3 linked regions of the Homo sapiens genome follow. The protein of the gene in region 3 interacts with the protein of the main gene of each other region in a pairwise test. Each region holds a gene or a part of one and is shown on either strand. Other genes may lie near its edges.

Evidence for each region. Proteins that work in one complex are often made in the same cells at the same time.
Region 1: the proteins of TNNI3K (region 3) and HADHB interact in a two-hybrid assay, tested with the Homo sapiens proteins (one study listed by BioGRID).
Region 2: the proteins of TNNI3K (region 3) and FABP3 interact in a two-hybrid assay, tested with the Homo sapiens proteins (one study listed by BioGRID).

What each region holds. Positions count from the first base shown.
Region 1 is NC_000002.12:26,275,906-26,282,938, reverse strand, and holds part of HADHB (trifunctional enzyme subunit beta, mitochondrial isoform 1 precursor), read right to left. Parts: intron 5,867-7,033; coding exon 5,779-5,866; intron 4,326-5,778; coding exon 4,138-4,325; intron 3,805-4,137; coding exon 3,624-3,804; intron 2,946-3,623; coding exon 2,824-2,945; intron 95-2,823; coding exon 15-94; intron 1-14. UniProt on the Homo sapiens protein: Mitochondrial trifunctional enzyme catalyzes the last three of the four reactions of the mitochondrial beta-oxidation pathway.
Region 2 is NC_000001.11:31,364,753-31,370,109, forward strand, and holds the end of FABP3 (fatty acid-binding protein, heart), read right to left. Parts: intron 4,839-5,357; coding exon of another isoform or gene 4,806-4,838; coding exon 4,633-4,805; intron 2,743-4,632; coding exon 2,641-2,742; intron 1,188-2,640; coding exon 1,134-1,187; 3' UTR 501-1,133; downstream 1-500. UniProt on the Homo sapiens protein: FABPs are thought to play a role in the intracellular transport of long-chain fatty acids and their acyl-CoA esters.
Region 3 is NC_000001.11:74,364,384-74,371,416, reverse strand, and holds part of TNNI3K (serine/threonine-protein kinase TNNI3K), read right to left. Parts: intron 4,162-7,033; coding exon 4,075-4,161; intron 3,510-4,074; coding exon 3,453-3,509; intron 2,396-3,452; coding exon 2,303-2,395; intron 2,211-2,302; coding exon 2,153-2,210; intron 2,027-2,152; coding exon 1,832-2,026; intron 1,130-1,831; coding exon 1,025-1,129; intron 1-1,024. Other genes in the region: FPGT-TNNI3K fusion protein, read right to left, coding at 1,025-1,129, 1,832-2,026, 2,153-2,210, 2,303-2,395, 3,453-3,509, 4,075-4,161. UniProt on the Homo sapiens protein: May play a role in cardiac physiology.

The sequences.
Region 1 (7,033 bases), on a different chromosome or scaffold from region 3:
AACATTTACTTTACCTCAAATATGCCTTCGGCTTATAACCCATGGCCAGAGCCTTTTCCTCCGCCATGATTAACATTGCAGATGCACCATCAGTCTGAAATGTTAACCAGCACAATGTTAAAATTCTTCAGCCTGTCTGGAGGTCTTTCTCCAGCCATCTTATATATCTGTACCTGAATCTATTAACTCATTAGACTTATACAGTGATTCTATATAACAACACTTACTTCACTGTATCCATCATTAAATCATAATTCAAACATACACACGCTGACTCATTTTTGGAGGATGAGGGTAGAGAAGGCTGTTCAAAAGTATCATAATAATCAAAATGAATCAACAGAAGAGGTAACTTTAGAAATAAATGCTCATGGCCAAGCGTGGTGGCTCATGCCTGTATGCCTGTAATCCCAGCACTTTGGGAGGCTGAGGCGGGCAGATCATGAGGCAGGTGATTGAGACCATCCTGGCTAACGCGGTGAAACCCCATCTCTACTAAAAATAGAAAAACTTAGCCAGGTGTGGTGGCACACACCTGTAGTCCCAGCTACTTGGGAGGCTGAGGCTGAGGCAGGAGAATTGCTTGAACCTGGGAGGCGGAGGTTGCAGTGAGCTGAGATCGTGCCACTGCATTCCAGCCTGGGTGACAAAGCCAGACTCTGTCTCAAAAAAAAAAAAAAAAAAAAAGAAAGAACTGCTCATAATAAACACTAAACACTTATTTAAGCCAAAGTTTTTAGCTTGTGGCACAAAATATGAACCAAAATAAACATATCTCTTATTTATTTATTTTTACATTTTCTGGGCTCTCAGCTGCTTTCTGCCCGTGGCTTACAGGTCATTTTATTCTACTTATATATTCTGTAACGAGCAAACCAATGGGAGAACCAGCTGAGGACATTAGAACCACAATCTTCCCTCTTTGGATACACCCCATACATTTCTTCCCAAATGACAACCGAGAAGCTGGAGGACAAAGAAGTACTACTGAAAAAACGTCCTTTACCATACTTCAAAGAAGAAAAGCTCCCCCAAAAACTTCAGAATTCCAAAGAAAAGGAAACTATTCTTCATAATTTGTAAAATCAAAATAAGTTCTACCACATTCTGTCGTATTTTTATAACTCGGCAACCCTGAAGAGACTGTGTAGCCACCAATAGGGTGTCCATAAAGTCTGGAGACATAGGTGACCATATGGAATAAATGGTTTACAGACATTACATTAATAACAGGTTCAATGTGCCATTGTGCAAAATTGCAATGAATGTGGGGCACTAATGCAGTCCCCAAAATCCATGTATTGTGATGTGTCACCTCTGATGATTTGTGTCTCTGATTCTCACTAAATAAACCTGGACCTTTAGCATACCCTGGAAATAATCAAAAGGATTCAGATCTGGCAAGTGTAGTCCATGCCACATGGCTCTATCATCCAATTCGGTTTTGCAAATGACCAACCTAACCAGCTCTTCACCACCTGGGCTTAACAGGGTGGTGTTCCATCCTGTTGGAACTACTCCAGATTCCACTCCCCTAGCCTATCAAGAGCAGGCATTAATTAGTCATTTACCATGGGCAAATATGTCAAACATCTGCGTATGTTTTCAAGACTTTATGGCCAGGTAGGAGAGTTACATTGTAAGAGAAACTCTGACCAGATGGCCTATATCCAGAAGACTATACCCAAGGTGGTAAGAGAAGAGAAATCACATCTTACAAGCAGCAGCAGAATCAATAAAGATGTTTAATTGAGGAGTCAGAAAAGCATGGAAGGATATGAAGCTACATGTTGATAAGTTAAAAAAAAAACACAAAACAAACAGTGGTAGATTTGTTCCATGATGCTTACAGGAAAATAATATTGGGGTCAGTGTAAAGCAGTTTTCTAACAATCAGGGCTGGAAGAGGTATCCTGTTACTCTTTCTGCCTGCTTTTCCTTGTCTTCTGCGACTTCCCAGTTCATACCTTATGCTCCAACCTAACTTTTCCCCAAAGAACCCCTTGCTCTCATACTTCCTTGATTTTGCATTTGCTATTCCCTTTGTCCAAAATGCCTTTTTTTTTTTTTTTTTTTTTTTTTTTTGAGATGGGAGTTTCGCTCTTGTGCAGGCTGGAGTGCAATGGTGCGATCTTGGCTCACCGCAACCTCCACGCCTCCAGGGTTCAAGCAATTCTCTTGCCTCAGCCTCCCGAGTAGCCGGGATTAACAGGCATGTGCCACCACATCTGGCTAATTTTGTATTTTTAGTAGAGACGGGGTTTCTCCATGTTGCTCAGGCTGGTCTCGAACTCCTGACCTCAGGTGATCTGCCTGCCTCAACCTCCCAAAGTGCTGGGATTACAGGCGTGAGCCACCGCACCCGGCCTGAAATGCCTTTTAAAATCCTTCCTGAGTTGGCTTTTACTCTTCCTTCAAGATTTGCTGCTCAAGTGTTACCTCTTCCAAGAAGACTCTCTGACTGTCCCCCCATCTGGGTCAGGGGTTCGACCTAAGCCTTACAGCCATCACAGCATCTCACTATATTGCAATTGTCTATTCTTTTCATTTCCAGGGCCCACCATAAGCAATAGAAGTTTTTGACTGGTTAAGTGCCTGAAAGGAAGAGCTTTTGTGGCAGAATGGTGGCTGGATTAGGTGACTTCTCGGGCCTTAAAACCGTGATTCTATTTTTTTTTTAATGACTCCACTTTCACATTAAAATGAATAACTATATTTTTAACCCTCTATTCATAACACACACAAAAAGTTATATTAGGCTTTTCTACAGAGAGTACAGAAATAGAAAAGTCACTACTAAATACAAATAACATTGACAGTTACCAAGAAAGAAGAATTTGCAGCTGTCACTGTGCCGTAGGGCTTGATGAATGCAGGTTTTAGTTTGGCCATCTGCTCCAGTGAGGAAGGACGGATGCCATTATCTTTGGTAACTGTATCTTTTCCTATTAAAAAAATGAATTTTTTTAACTCTATGGAACCACAAGCCTTATATATCTTCTCCACAGAAATATGCTTTAAAAATTACAAAAACAAATGAAATATAAACCTTACCTATTCACTAGAAGGAAAGTGTTTTATAATTATCATATTATCAAATTTTAAACTAAAGTCTTAAAAGACAATTGGGAAATCATCTAAATGCTTTACTAAAAATAGGACACCCTATTTTCTTAAGACATTCATTCACAGTTGGCTATTCTATACAGAAGTCAGACGATTCAGGAATTTTAAAAACAGGCATGTATGTAAGAACTAAAATATATCAGCAAGATCTAAAAGGAGACTCTGTTTTTCTTTTTTTTTTTTTTAATTAGAGATGAAGTCTCACGCTGTTGACCAGGCTGGTCTTGAACTCCTGGCCTCAAGCGATCCTCCTGCCTCAGCCTCCCAAAGTGCTGAGATTAGTGCTCAGATCTTAAAAGGACACTCTTATAGAAACATTAAAAAATGTTAACCTATTGTTACAACATAAATCAAAATTTGCATCCATATTTAAGAATAAAGGCTGAATACTTTGGAAACAGAACCAACATACTTATGGAAAAATCACTCGGGATGTTTTTGAGTTTTAGGAGCAATTCAGAACTCCCTAATAAGTGTCATGAAGCATTTCATTTCACCTGGTACTTTGAAGGGTACCACATCAGAAAGGAGTCCTTCATCCTGTGCCTTCTTGGCTAGACTGTGAGAGCGCAGTGCATATTCATCCTGTTCCAGCCGAGAAACAGCAAAGGCAGCGGCCAGTCGGTCTGCAGAGTGGCCCATGGTCTCACTGGTGGAGAACTCAGAAACCGCAGGGAGCTGGGAAAGGAGATATCCAAGGAGCAGGTACACTGTTAACCGGTGTTATGCTAACACCTAGGATTGTTCTGTGTTATTTGGAAAAGTTAAAATCTATTTGTCTACCATTAATCAATCAAGTCCAAGACAAGCAGAGGATCTCTAAAGAGGATCTCTAAAGAGGGCTCACAAATTAAAGTTTTCTAACCACTATCTTTTTTTTCCATCTTGAGCAAGTAATTAACCCTTTCCTGTAACTACAGAATCTACACCTATTACAGCATAGCAGAGTCCACACTGCCATACCTAATTCTAAATCTCTGCAGTGGGATGCCCTGCAAACACAAGCCTTACCTCAGGTGCTAGGAAATTAAATCGGAATTTAGAGATTAAAGACAGTCGCTGGCCCATAGATTTGGCCTTATTGAGATCAAGCATCAGTTTTCTCATTTTCCTTGAGTGACGAATAGGGACATCGGACATCAACTCAACACCACCTGCCACGATCACATCACACTGGCCAGAAGCAATCAAGCCAACACCTACAGGGCACAGGTTATACTTCATGAATATCTTTTACAGAAAATAACATACCATTCCAATTTAAGCTTCTTGATTAAAAAGCTGAATGACAGTTATCAGCTTTGTACAACATCTGTAATTAAAGTTTTCAACTTTTCAGAAGAATTAAGGTAATTTTCTTAAATGACTAAAAACACATTCAACACGTTAGAGAAAAACAAGTTTCATTCCTGCCATATGGACGTCAACTTCTAGGAATATCCATTGGACCAACTCTTGAACAAATCATATTCCAAACCAGAACATCTTGCATATTTATATGCTCCCAGCTTTAGTTTTAATAAAGATTTTTTATCCTATAAAGAGAATGTTAACTTCTGCTGCAAAGCAGAGAAATTACAGCTGTTGAAACGTAAGGCAGGCCCCCTCTCTCCTTATGGCCACTGGCCAGTATTCTGTTTCTCTAACCAGGAGTTGGTCACATGCTGCCTAGAGTGGCGAACGCCCCCAGTCACGGGCATCATTCCCCGCCACACATGAGGTGGGGTGCCCACCTGGGCCTTGATGTTACTAGATGAGCACATGATTACTAAATCTTTCAGGCTTCCTTGCCTCCTCACACTAAGAGCTGATGCTACAAAATATCCCACAGTTTTGCTAAAGTTTGTTAGTGGGGTTTTCAGTGATTTATAAAAATGACAAGGATGTAAGGAGAAAGTGAAGGAAAGAGCTGTGCCATCTAAAGCAATGATTTACAAGTATGGTAGTGGTGAAGGAAGGAAGACCATATCTTTGTGGGAAAATATCATATCTGAAGCACCTAGGTTGAAAGCCTGGCAGGTTGTAAACTATTTACTCATGCCTCAGATGCTGAAGTACCTTCCTAGAGATACACTCCTCCAGTTGATAATCCCTGCTGCAGCCAGCCACATTATTCACAGAGGAACCACGCCAATGGTAATGTTCCTCAGGTATGGAGAGCAAAAAAAGAGGTTAACTACGGTTAGAACCCCCAAATTTTAAACCTGACCTTACTTTTTAAAAAACACAAGTATAGAGATCTGTGCTAATCTTTTACTTCTGTTAAGAGTACTTTTTGGGATGAGCATGGTGGCTCACGCCTGTAATCCCAGCACTTTGGAGGCTGAGGTAGAAGGATCACTTGAGGCCAGAGGTTTAAGACCAGCCTGGGCAACATGGCGAGATCCCGTCTCCACAAAAAATTTAAAAATTAGCTGGGTGTGGTGGAGCACCTGTAGACCCAGCTACTTGGGATCCTAAGGCAGGATGATCTCTTGAGCTCAAGAGTTTGAGCCTGCAGTGAGCTATGATGGTACCACTGCACTCCAGCCTGAGTGACAGAGTGAGGTTCTGTGTTAAAAAAAAAAAAAAAAAAAAAAGTACATTTTTATAATCAAGTAAAAGACAAAGGAGAATAATTAACATGTACTGTCTGTTTCCATTTAAACATACCTGTGGTCATGGCTTGGTTGGCAGAGATACAAGCCATGGTGACAGTGTGAGCAGGAGTCTTGTCAGAGAAGCCAGCTCCAAGGGCAGCCTTTAGGAAATAGAGTGAATGAAATGATCACTATAAGGGAAGGGCATCATGTAAATGATGCTTTGAGCACTAATCTTCATAGTCATCTGGAAACGGTTTCAGTTTAACATTCTCCAGAGCAATATTTAAAATCAAATGAAGTCCATCACAGAAATGGTTCACTAATATTTAATCTTGCCATTAATTGACAGGTATATGCAAAATTCCTGCTGGCTGGTTTCTAGTGCAGACACGAGGCTATGATACTCTCCTAACTCACCTAATTTCTTATCGATGTTTTGCTCAGGGCCTTCAAGAATATCAATATATAATTTGATTTTAACTTGTTTAATGTTCAAATATACTTAAAAGAACCTATTAAAGACAGTTGCTGGAATGATGATGAAATATATTATGGGGTGGAGTCCTCACTATCTGTGTTATCAGGTCTCATGATCAGTCACAAAGCTTAGCAGCAAAGCAAAAGTGATTAAACATGAAAATGATTTCTAAAGAACTGACCCTTCATAAACAGAGTTCCCACTCAAGACCCTGTCTGCTTTACACCTATCTTTCTGCTCACTGCCAGCTGGTTTCTCTTACTGACCGTCTGATACTTCAGATAGCACACTGCAGACCCAATGCAAAGATGAACTGGAAAACTTGCCAACTATACAGAAGCTCAACTCAATGAAAGAAACTGGAGAATTGCCTGAGTTACAAGTGAGTCTGTGAACAAATAAGGGTCAGACCAACTAACAAGTGGCCAGGATGATGGCATAATACGTGATACAAAGAGAATAATTTGTCATCTGAGCGGCTTTAAGAAAAACTGAGGTCATTATTAATCTTTTAAAAATGGCCTCTATTATAATGGCACAGTGAAAGTCAAACATGAAATGAGCACATCTATAATTTTATTATACTATTTATTGGGGGAAATTATGCTGTCAAAAACCAATCAACGTCTGATTCCATTTTTGTTTATGTAAATAATTAATGCACAGGTGCAATTATAAAATACTTATTTTTATAATATTAAAGTTTTACTTTAGAAATAAAGCTTCCAGATTTCCTCCCACATACACACCCACACAATATTTACTATGAAATACTGGATCCCATTATAGGGAATTCATTTTTAGTATTCTTTCCCTGAAACTATTAATTATCCTCAGAACACACTCT
Region 2 (5,357 bases), about 43 Mb from region 3:
ACAGCTAGAAAACAGTCTGCAGTGTGACTTAACTTGTGTATTGCATTCCAGCAGACCACTGAACCAGACAGCGAAGCCAAGATCATTGTTCTACTTTGTATTTACTACTGTGTGAATCAGTTGATTCTACTTCAGGTCCTTGCTTAAATTCCTGTCACTAAATGGAAATGTGTTTGGTTTTAAACTTACTGAGTTATTTTTCCTATAATCCTTCTTCCTGGGTAACTTACAGACTTAAAGTCACTGAGCCTGCATTAGCTGACAAAAACATTTAATATGTTACCTTAGACCTTGGAGAGATGCCCAGCAGAGGTACAGAGCCAAAGGCACTAGCAGATCACTGCCTTCTTGGGAGATCACTTATAAGCCCTCCCTTTTGTAATGATCAGATGCCCTCTTCCCTCAGAGTTGATTAGAGAAGCAGTAAGAATTTGTAGTCATAAGTACTAGCCTGGTGCACAGGTCAGCAGTCCTCTTGGCCAGTGGTCATTTTCTCCCACCACCATGGTACAAGCCTGGGTTCTGTGCCCTGAACCTGAATTCTGGAAAGGGAGAGACTACAGCATTTCACAGAGAACAGCCAGACCCAAGAGCTTTCAGTGTAGGATGGGCCTGAAGTGACAGTTCAATAGCCAAACCTGGGGAAGCCCCATCACTGACTGAACTAGGTCATTTGACCATGGAGGGGGGGCAGTGTAAAGGCAACGTGTAGGTACAGCTCTTTTATTATTAAATGTGTAAGGTGATCAGCTGATTAACAGGCTCCGAGACTGTCCATTTCAGTCTCCCATCCAGTGCTTCTTCCTCAGTAACCTTCAGGCCGTTATTTCTGCCCACTCTCTGACACACAGGATAAACCAAGACTCCCAGAGTTATGTTACCAAAGGCAAAAAGGCAACTGGGTGGCCTTGGCTCTGCTTTATTGACCTCAGAGCACCCTATGAGTGCAGTTAAAAAAAAAAAAAAAAAACCACATACACCATGGGAACTGGAACTGGATCCCGGTCAGTGGCACCTGACCCCAGAAGAATTCGTGGATTTGTACAAAATGCAGAGGAAGAAATGAGGCAATGTGGTGCTGAGTCGAGGGGTAGCCGATTGGCAGAGTAGTAGTCAGCAACAGTGCAGTCAGGTCATGCCTCTTTCTCATAAGTGCGAGTGCAAACTGCAGTGCCGTGGGTGAGTGTCTGGAAGGAAAGACAGAGTGAGATGGGGGGTGGAGCCAGGAACACCATTGCGAGCATTCTACCCTCCCTTCCTCCTGATAATTGTCACTTGAGTACCTACTATGTGCCGGCTATATGTATGTATGTGTGTGTGTGTGTGTGTGTGTGTGTGTGTGTGTGTATACATACATAATTTTTTTTTTCTGATATGCACAGCAAATCCTTAAGATAGGCATTGTAATTCTTATTTTAGAGATTTGGAAAAAACGAGCCTTTAGAGAGGAAGTAATTTGGTCAAGATCCTGAGTGTTTTTCCTTCCCTTATACCATTTGGCTTCCTTCATCCTTAGTGTCTAAGATGGTGCCTGGCATATAGTTGACAAATAGGAAAAATATCCAGAGACTCAGGAAAGGACTGTGTTTGGCTACTAACTCCAATCCTTCCCTAACTTAGAGTAGTGCCAGGGCCAGAGCCCTGTACCTCCCACTATCCGGTCTGGCATCATAGAGCCAGACCCATGGCCTCACCATAGTTCAGCTGCCACTGAGAATTTGGTCCTGCATATCACATCCCCACCAAAGCTAGGCACCTCATTCCAAACTTCAAGGGGACCCCTGTCCCACATGAGTACAAGAATGCAGTTAACAGGTTATGCTGACCCAAGAAGGTGTGCAGTGAAGATGCCTAGGTGAAAACCTGAGGCCCTGTGGTTAGGCAGAATCCACAGTTGGCTGCTCTCCCTGGGTCTGGGGGGAATTCAGTCAAGGCTAGATTCTCCAAGTGAAGTCCCCAAGCTTGAACAGATCTGCCAGCCTGGCTGTGGTACTTCCTACCCAAGCAGTAGTCAAGTAGTTTCAGTAGGCCAGACATAGAAAGCATGAAAATGGGGTAGGACTAGAATGGGGAAGAAAGGACTGTACTGTCATTCAGTGTCCCCACCAGTCACGAGCCTGTCCCTGCAAGTGACAATGCAGTCCTAGGGAGGAGAGGAAAGGGAATGCTGAGATAGGCAATGGGAGCCCCTCCTAGAGGGCCTGGGATCAGATTTGGCCCTGTTTTCTACTTCTTCCTGAGGTGAGGCAAGGTAGAAACACAGGAAGAGCAAACAAAGGACATGGAGCACCTGCTGTGTTCCTCAATCAGTGATGCTTTGTGCTGTGCATACACTGTCTCTTACAGGCTTCCCAGCAGCCCTACAAGGTTGGTATTATTAATACCCGTTTTACAGTTGCACTTGGAAAAGGTGATTTGCCCACAGTCATGTAGCCTATAAGGTAAGATTTGAGTTCCGGCCTGTGTGAGTCCAAAGCCACTACACAGAAAATTCCCACCTGATACCACCCTGACCCACAACCACTCTCTTGTCCCAGCTTCTACAGCTCTCAGGGGAGGACTTGGCTTTTTAGAACAGGCTTGGCTGAAAGAGCAGTAGTAATAACCAATCAGATATAGCTCCAAAGTTGCCCATCTTACCAGGATGAGTTTTCCATCAATTAGCTCCCGCACAAGTGTGGTCTCTTGCCCGTCCCATTTCTGCAGGTGAACAAGTTTCCCTCCATCCAGTGTCACAATGGACTGTGGAAAGAGGGTAGAGGCCTGAGCTGTGATCTTAGTCAGGAATTGAGGGGCAGGGTGGGGTCTGGACACTGGGCCACAGAGCACACAGCCTTTGACCCAAACTAGTGATGGTGTGAGGACAAGAGCTCAGGCAATCCGCCTCCCAGCTATCCCTGCAAGACATCTAGTTCACCTCCAGCCTCTGCTCCACTACTGCCTTTCTGGGGAAGAGGCCTTCAGATATTAGGCAAGGAGGGAGAGGCAGGCAGTATGGTGGAGCCAGAGAGCCTGGCTCTGAGAAGTACCACAAGCCTTCAAGACAGACACTTATCTGTACTCTAGGTGATTCCCGTAGCCTGGTCCCCTCAGATACAGGTGGGATTTACTAGTCTATCCCTGGGAAAGACTGACTGAGGAGGAGGAGTAGTCCTGAGAATCTTTATCCAGCCTTGTGGTTAGTCCACATAATGTCTAAAAGACCCTTAGTGATAGGAAGTATTGGATAATTAGACTTCCTGCCCTGTATTCCTACACCTTTTCTTGGTCCACATCATGTGACCTCTTTAGCCAACAAGAGGGCAGCAACCACAAAGTCCTGTGACTGGATGCCCTTGAAGTGGTTCCTCAGCTCTGGGTGCTGCCAGCATACATACATCAGCTGGTTCTCATTTGGCAGCTCTTCCAGCTCTCTTTCCTAGGAGTTTGGGGGCCACAAGGCCAGGCTAAGGGATCCTGATGAGCAAGGTGGTTCAGTAGGAGAATCTGAGAAGGTTCTGTGTATTGTTTAGGTGATAAGGGGTATGAGGCCTGTCTCTTAGTGTGCTCTTTTTTATCCTTACCTTACTCCTTGTTCTCATTCCCCTAGTTTTTTTTGCCTACTCAGAGTAGATATTTTTGCCCTAGGCATTCCACAGGGCTATTGTGTTTAATTGGGGTTCTTGCCCCTTGAGAAAGTAGGCAAGTCCAAGGAGGTATGAGCAGGTGGTGGGGCAGCCACCTTTATCCAAGGTAGACTGCCATCTTTGGGCACCATCCCCAGCTCTGCTGCCAGCCACCTGTGTGATCCTGTTCTTTCTGGGGACAGCTATGAGGAAGAGGAAACAGCTGATGGGGCTGAATGATAGTGTCATGATAGAACACTGCTATAGGGACACCCTATAGAGGTCAAAGCCCTTAAGTTCTCTCGCTCCCATGCCTGGCCTGGAAGGCTGAGGCAAGCTGCCAAGACAGCCACTGCAGGGTGATAGAACCCTGGGAGGAGGGGCTAAGGCTTGGTGGGAAGACACTGCAAACACATTCATGACAAGGTGAATGCCCTATCACGGAACATAGCTCTTCCTGCCTGTCAGCTGGCAACACTGGAAATAGTTTGTCAGGGTCATTGGCCATGTCTGGGAGTTAGAAGTTGAAGCGGCATCTGAGTAGGTGCTTCTAGTTCCTGGCTGCCTTTTTTGCTGCTGGAGGTCACAATGACCTCACTCAGTGGAGGGCCCTGACTTCTGGGCATCATTCCTAAAGCACTTCAGGTCACAGCCATGGCCACATAACTCTGCCATCTATGGAAGGGGAAAGAAACCTAGAGCTACTGCATACCTTGCACAGGGTCACCCAGCTGGAGCTGGAGTAGATACTGAGGTCAGAAGAACATCCTGGCTCTGTGCTGCCCATTCCGAGGCAGACAATAGATGAATCCCAAGAAGGGAGGGAAGAAAACAAGAGGACAGAACTGACATGTATTTAGCATCAGTGGCATTCCAGCACTACACAGGCTTTATGAATCTTGTTTCATTTAAATTCCCCATGATAGTCTGCCCCTCAGGGTGCAATACCAGGGAGCCAAGACTACCAGCCTATTCTCTTTTAGAGTCTCAGCACTCTCCATTCCCCACCCCTGTTTCCCTGACTTACCTTGACCTTCCTGTCATCTGCTGTTGTCTCATCGAACTCCACCCCCAACTTAAAGCTGATCTCTGTGTTCTTGAAGGTGCTGTGTGTTTTTAGGGTGAGAATGTCCCCATTCTTTTCGATGATTGTGGTAGGCTTGGTCATGCTGGCCACCTGCCTGGTAGCAAAACCCACACCTGAGGGTAGGGGGAAGGTTATGAGTATATGAGCTGGGGTAGAGAAGCAGTGTACAAGAAACTCAATGAATAACTCTCAGGCCTGGGTATGGGGAAGTGGAGGACTGTATCTTTCAAAGCCTTTGCATGGGAATTTTAAAATTCAGTCTTGCGCTTAGTTCTGTTTGGTGAACACAGATAACTGATCCCATTAGATGAGAGATACTTAAGGAACAGCAGTGCCATAGCAAGTCAGTGGCAGAGCTGGGATTAGAATAAGCTACTATTGGGCCAAGTGTGGTGGCTCACGCCTGTAATCACACTTTGGGAGGCCAAGGCAGGCGGATCACATGAGGCCAGGAGTTTAAGACCAGCCTGGCCAATATGGTGAAACCCGTCTCTACTAAAAATACAAAAAATTAGCCAGATGTGGTGGTATGTGCCTGTAATCCCAGCTACTCAGGAGGCTGAGGCTGAGAATTGCTTGAACCTAGGAGGTGGAGGTTGCAGTGAGTCGAGATTGTGCCACTGCACTCCAGCCTAGCCAACAGAGTGAGATTCCACCTCAAAAAA
Region 3 (7,033 bases):
CTTATTATTTTATACCTCAAATACATTTAGGTAAATATTTTTCTCCTCTACATAGAGTGTGAAAACTCCCTGAATGTAGTCTATGAACGTCCCACTTTGTAAGCTCTACTGTGCTGAAAATAGTCTTTAAACATATATGTTCAAACATAGTTGTTGACCAAATGACTGACTAGAGTAATCAATATTTACTAGCTTCAGAACTGTAAAGCTTCTATAAAGGACTATATACACAATCTATTTGAATCTTATTGACTATCATAAAATGAAAGTGATTGATGTGGAATAATCTGACTTGCTTCATAAACTAAATCAGTGTTTGTCCAACTATTCTCTACAGCACCTTTGGGCTTCCACAGAGGTGGTGCAGGAATCTCTCTCCTTAGCAGTGGGAAATGGGAAGTAAATAGAGTTTTCTCCTCCCCACTTTACCTTCACCCAACACTGCTCCATTTTGTATATTGGCCTTTCCTATAAGACTTTACTCAGAGAAAGTTTTCACTATTTAGGAAAAGTTTTGAGGTCACTTGGGGTTCCACCACTGGAACACTCTGATTTTATATTTGTTTCACATGAAATCCTCTTTACCTGATAACTAGGTAAATAAGCTGTTGTGGTTAAGCTGAATTTACGGTAGCACAAAGTACGTTTCAGATAATTTTATATCAGGAGCTACTCCAACACTTCACTTTATAGGAGACATATCATTTTTTTAATAGCCATTTAGCTCACTGCTTGATGTGACCTTACTGACCTGGGAACTAGTTAGCTGGTGCATCTTACAGATATTACTATATTTGTGAATATTCTTCATAGATTTAAAAGATCCCTGAGAAGCAGTTATACAGCTTTCTACTCCTTAAAAGACAATGACAAAACTTTCTATCGCCTAAGCTTATGGTAGCCTGTCCTCTTAACCACAGAGTACCCTGATCTGCAATAAGTCTAAAATGTATCTTCACTGAAATCTGTCTTAAACTCCCAGTTAGTCATACCCTTCTGAGTTCATTATTTAGGAAAAAAATACCTGTTCAAGTCACGATGTATAATTGGCTGTGTCAGGTTGTGAAGGTACTCCATGCCTTTGGCAACATCTACTGCAATAATTAATTTAGACTGCAAATCAAGAATCCTAGAATTTAAAAATAGATTTAACAGAGATGAAATGGTCAAAACGAATATCAAAAAAGCAAATGATGTGTAAGAGTTGTTATTTTATATCATCTTAACCATTTTTTGTTTCTTGAAGGTTAAGCTAGAAATTCAACAAATCTGAATAGCTTTCCTACATCAGAAAATGCTTAATTATGAATCAATTAAGATATACAGCATCTCTTGTTTAAGATATTATACTTGGTTTTATAATTTATTTATAATACTATACTTAATTTCTTTGTAATATTGTAAAATGAAATCTATTTTAATCACTGTATGAAACTACATTCTAATTACTATATGCATAAACTCAGAAAGTGAATTCACATTGGATTTGTTCAAGATCACTTTTTTAAAAGTTTATTTTATTCTGAGCTTACATATATCTTCTTTATCAGTATTTCAAATTTAGCCTAATTATTTTAAGCTCCAGTTTCCAATTTAAATTCCTTAAATTTGTTATCTTCAACTGAATTTCTGCTAAGAAAGCATAAAGTATTTCTATTCATTGAAACACAGTTATTAGGCATAAATTATTAGCGATATTAAAAATGACACACTTGCTAGCAGCACTCAGATTTCAAAAGGTGAAGGCTCATCCAATGGGAAACCCTCTGAAGTATTGCAAGAGTAGTTTCTACGGAATGTCCAAGGATAAATCAGAACAAAAGACCCATACCTCTTCTGCTCATGAAGGAGGGAGAACAGAGAACCCCCTGATATGTATTGAGTGACAATGGCAAACTGGCTGGGATCATTCAAGCAAGCACCCACAAACTGAATTACGCAGGGATGATTGAGCTGGCAGAGAATGGACACCTCTCGGCAAAACATATCCACATCTGACTTGGAGCAGTAGGTATTGGCTCGATAACTGGAAATGGCAGCAACAGAAAATCTTCAGTAAACAGATGGATCCAAACAAGGGGCTTGCCATGCACATGCTTCTCAAAGGTCACAATTCCACCTGGATGTTAAATTTTTTCATTTGCTTGCTTACCGTTTTATAGCCACTATTTTATTTCTGCATCGTCCTTTATATACTTTCCCAAAAGAACCTACAATTGTTTAAAATAAATAAATAAACACATATTAACTTAAGCTCATTCAACTAAACCGGACCTTTATTTATTTATTTATTTTAGGTTACCTGAGCCAATAATCTCATGGAACTCAATTTCTGAGAGCTGAAGATGGAAATGTGAAGGCAATCCAGCTCTTAGGAGGAGAATATCTGCCTTCTCTGCAAAGAGAAATTGTCATTTTATTTTTTAAGGTAAAAACCACACACATGGATGTGTATACATGTGCATATATATATTTAACTAAAAACATAATTTCCTAATAACATTTAATTTTTAATTTTCCAACTGTAATTGACTACTTAAAGATGCTAAAACCTTAACCCAAATGATCCCTACCCCCCTGCATTAAAATCATGTTAGTTCTATGTCTTGATTACTCACTCCTTGTTACCAGGGCTAAGGGTCTATTCCTGATCTGGTTACCAGGGCTAAGGGTCTATTCCTGATCTGGTTACCAGCGCTAAGGGTCTATTCCTGATCTACTCACTCCTTGTTAGCAGGGCTGAAGGTCTATTCCTGATCTATTCCTGCATGACATGGCAACCCTGGAGTCCAGTCCGTATCACATTATGATAAAGGTTCTGATCTGGTAACTCTCTTCAGTCTATTCCAATAGGCTTAGCCAAATATCCATAAACTAACCTCAAAGGGATGCCAATTAAATGACAGGAAATAAGCGTATGAATCATTCTAAGGAAACACTCATTCTACATTCTAAGGAAACTATTTGGAATTTAAATTCCAAATAGTTAAATATATATTTACATTTGAATCAAAGTTTTTACTTTCCTGGTCCAATGTTATTCATTTCTGTGTGAAGCATACATTCAAAAATGGTCCCAAAGTATTACTTATTGGGGATATTTTGAAAAATAATATATATTTTTTCACATATGTTTTCTAGTCCCAATTCTCCTTAAAGAAATATTAATATTTATAATTCATTTTTATAAAAAACAGAAACATCTAAACAGTCCAGTGAGAATTTGATTTTTCTTTAATAGTTATGTGAAATTTTCACTGTTATTATATCTTTATGCACTGAAAGGAGATAAAGGGTAAGGTTAATTATGAAAAGAACGGTCTGTCAATAATATTTGTTGTGCTTGTAAAATAGTCATCATTTGTAATATGTAAAACAAAATTGAAAATTACATTTGAAGCAATAGTTATCCTTAGTAATTAAATATAACAATTGTCCCAGATTATAGGTACCTTTTGTCATGCTTTTAATCTTCCCCAAGGGTGATGGAACAGACACATAGGAGCCATCTAGAAATTAAATTATATAATAGAGTTGAAAGTAGCGATCATTTTTTTCTACATAAAAGTTCAACATTATAAAAATAAGCAGGTGACGAAACGAAGTAAAACTATCGCTTCAGGCCCAAATCTTTCTCTGGATACTGAAATTGTACTGCAAGTGTTTATTTAGAAAGTGCATAAAAAGATTTTTTAGAAAATCCAAGTTGTAGCAGACTCTAGCAGATTTAATTTGTCTCTGGATATGAGTATTCAGTAATAGATTACTGAAATGGAAAATGACTGCTCTCAGCTTATCCAGGCCTTCCTAGTCATGCACAAGCCTCATAAACATCCAGTCTGGGAAATGTTAAACTTGGAGGAGCTGCAGATTGGTGAGTTAGAAAATAGCTGAAATGGAGGCTTCTTTATGTTCAGCCTCTCCCAGACATAAGGTTACTTAAAATAAATCTAATCTGACATAGGCTATGCCCTCCTCCCTAACCCCTGAAAGAATGATAGTAACAGAAACACAGGTTTACCTTTAGGCACAATATATTATACAATAATGAAAACTGAATAAGAAAAGGGGTACCTCCTCCAGGCTGAGAATATTCATTACAGGGCAATTCATCTTGTGGTCTCTTATAATGCTTCAGGAGTGTGACAATGGCATCATGCCCTTTATGAAAAGATACAAAGAACAAAGAGTCCTAAATTTTGTTTAAGTTATTCAGTCTACTCTCAAATCCAAAAATTATTGGAAGTAGCTTACAACATAGGACAAATCATAAGAGGTAATGTATTGCAATAGAAATTTAGTTCATTCATTCTTTGGTTCAAAATGATTTCTTAAGACTACCATATGCGAAGCACTATGTCAGGCACTCTACTGGGAATGGGTACTGGTGATGCAGTGAACAAAGTGACTATGGTCTTACCCTTAAGAAGCTTACAATGTAGTTGAACAAATAATCAGAAAAATGATGAGGATTTCTAAATAAGGCAATACTAAGTACTATGGGAATATATAATAAGGGCACTATTAAAAGGGCAAAAAGTACATACAGTAATCAGGAAAGAGAGATGTATTTGCTGTGATTGAGCGTACATTTGATTCAGTATTGTAGTATTATGCAGCACTAAGATAATTTACATAGGTTTTTAGAGACAGCTGGCTGCCTGCCAATATTTGTACTCCTCTTTCACAGGGTGATTTTGTCACTGGGAATGGCTGCCCACCCAGTGACATTTTCCTATGTACCTTGCATCCAACTGTGGCCTTGCGACATATTTTCATGAAGGGAATATGAGCAAAAGTGAAGTAACTTCCAGGTCTGTGCCTTAAGAAACAGGTGAGCCTTCTCTACTCTTCCCATTTGCTGGCTAGATGCAGAAGGCTCTGAAGCTCTGAGGGTTGGAAGAAAGCCATCCACTGACCAGAAATGCCCACCCTGAAGTGCTATATGAGAAATACTTTTCTATTATAACACCACCAACAATCTAGTGTTTACTAGTTACACTAGGGGCTTATGATTGTGAAGGATAAAAAATGCCAAATGATCCTCTGAGTAATGCAATGTTTTTCAATAAAATTAAACTTCAATACTATTTTAATGCGTTCACTATAAAAATAATCTATGAAGCTAATTTACAAAAGAGAAAAACAGCCAACCTTAAAGATGTTGCCATAGGATTTGTGAAATACAACAGAGCTTATTGTAAAACTGGTAAATTTAAGGAATTGAAAAAGCATAAATACTTATCCATCACAAAGGATCTGTAGTTAACATGGGTTAAGCATACATCTAGCTTATGTAGAGAGTATATGCTGAGATTTGCTTGCCTTTCAAATCTTCCCTTCCGCAAAAACTTTAAATGAACAGTGCATTCAAGATCATGAGGTGGAAAAATCATGGTATTTACAAACACGAAAAGCTTTTCCAAAGGTAACAAGGCTAAGATTCTTCGAGGAAAAAAAAAAAAAGCATTGTGATTACAATTGCTAAAACTGGTAGCAAAACTTAAATCTACATAGTTAAAAACTAGTGTCTATTTTCTTATCATCTCCAGCTTTCTATTCATGACTGGTGGATCTCTAATTTTCTCAAATCATAGGAATAAGTTATAATGAAATAACGTGGGGGGCAGTCCCATTGGCATTCTTTCTTTGGACTGCAGCGAGCTCACGATCAGGGAAACCTTAAGACTAATTTAAGGACATTAGCCAACAAACTAATTTCTAGGGGAAGCACCTAATAGGCAGAGAGAATAGATAATGTAGTAGTCCCAAGATGGGAGCAAACATAACATGTTTAGAGAATGAAAAAAGGCCAGTGTGGCTACACAAGCAAGGATGAGAGTGGTATCAGATTTGGTTGGAGAGGTAGGCAAGTGTACTTCATGTGGAGTAGTGCTTCTCAAATTTTTTTACTATGTATAAGAATCACTTGAAGTGCAAGTTCAAACAGATTCCCAAGCCCTGTCCCAATAGATCACAATTGAAAAAGTCTGTAGTAGGGGCTGAGTGTTGTGTTTCTAACAAGGTCCCAGGTGATGCTCATCAGCAATCTGCACTTTGACTGCGACTGATGTAGAGCTTTACAGGTGAGGATAAGGAGATGAGATTTTCGTGTAGGGTAGGCGAGATGGGGAGCCCCTGAAGCATTTTAATTAGTTAAAGGATATGATCTGTTTTACTTTTTAAAAAGATCGTCATCTACAGGTTAGAAACGATAATCCACCCTTGTAAGATTGTTGTAAAGATTAACTAAGATGATGTATGTAATATGCCTTACAGTTCTAACACATCAGTGTGCATTTTGGGTCTTGTCACTGCTTTTACACTTTACTTTTTGCCCCAAGAATTGTAGGTGAACTTGGAAACTCCTTTTTGGAATTTCAGACGAATCTTCTAAATACCAGTGTATTCATTTTCTATTGCTGCTATTGCTAGTTATGACAAACATAGTGACTTGAGCAATACAAATTTATTATCTTATAATTCTGGAGGTCAAAAGTTCAACATGGTTTTCTCTGAGCTGAAATCAAGGTGTCAGCAGGACTGCATTTCTTTCTAGAGGCCTTAGGAGATAATTGGTTTCCTTGACTTTTCCAAGTTTTATAGGCCACCCACATTCCTTGGCTTGTAGCCCCCTTCCTATTGCTTCAAAGCCAGCAATGGTTGGCTTAGTCCTCATATCATATTGCTCTGACCTCTGCTTCTGCCCCCCTTTTCCATATTACAATGAGCCCACTGGGATAATCCAGGATAATCTATCTCTTAAAGTCAGCTAAATAACAACCTTGATTCTTCCCCATGTAAGGCAGCCTACTTACAGTTCCAACAAACAGGACCTGAACATCTTTGGGGGTGGCGGGGGGCATTACTCTACCTCCTTGATTCTTCCCCATGTAAGGCAGCCTGCTTACAGTTCCAGTGAACAGGAACTGAACATCTTTGAGGGGGCATTACTCTACCTACCACATCCAGTTTCATGAATATTTCAGTGTGCTTGTGCCTTGCTTGTGTGTTGGTGCTGCCTGCTGTTGAG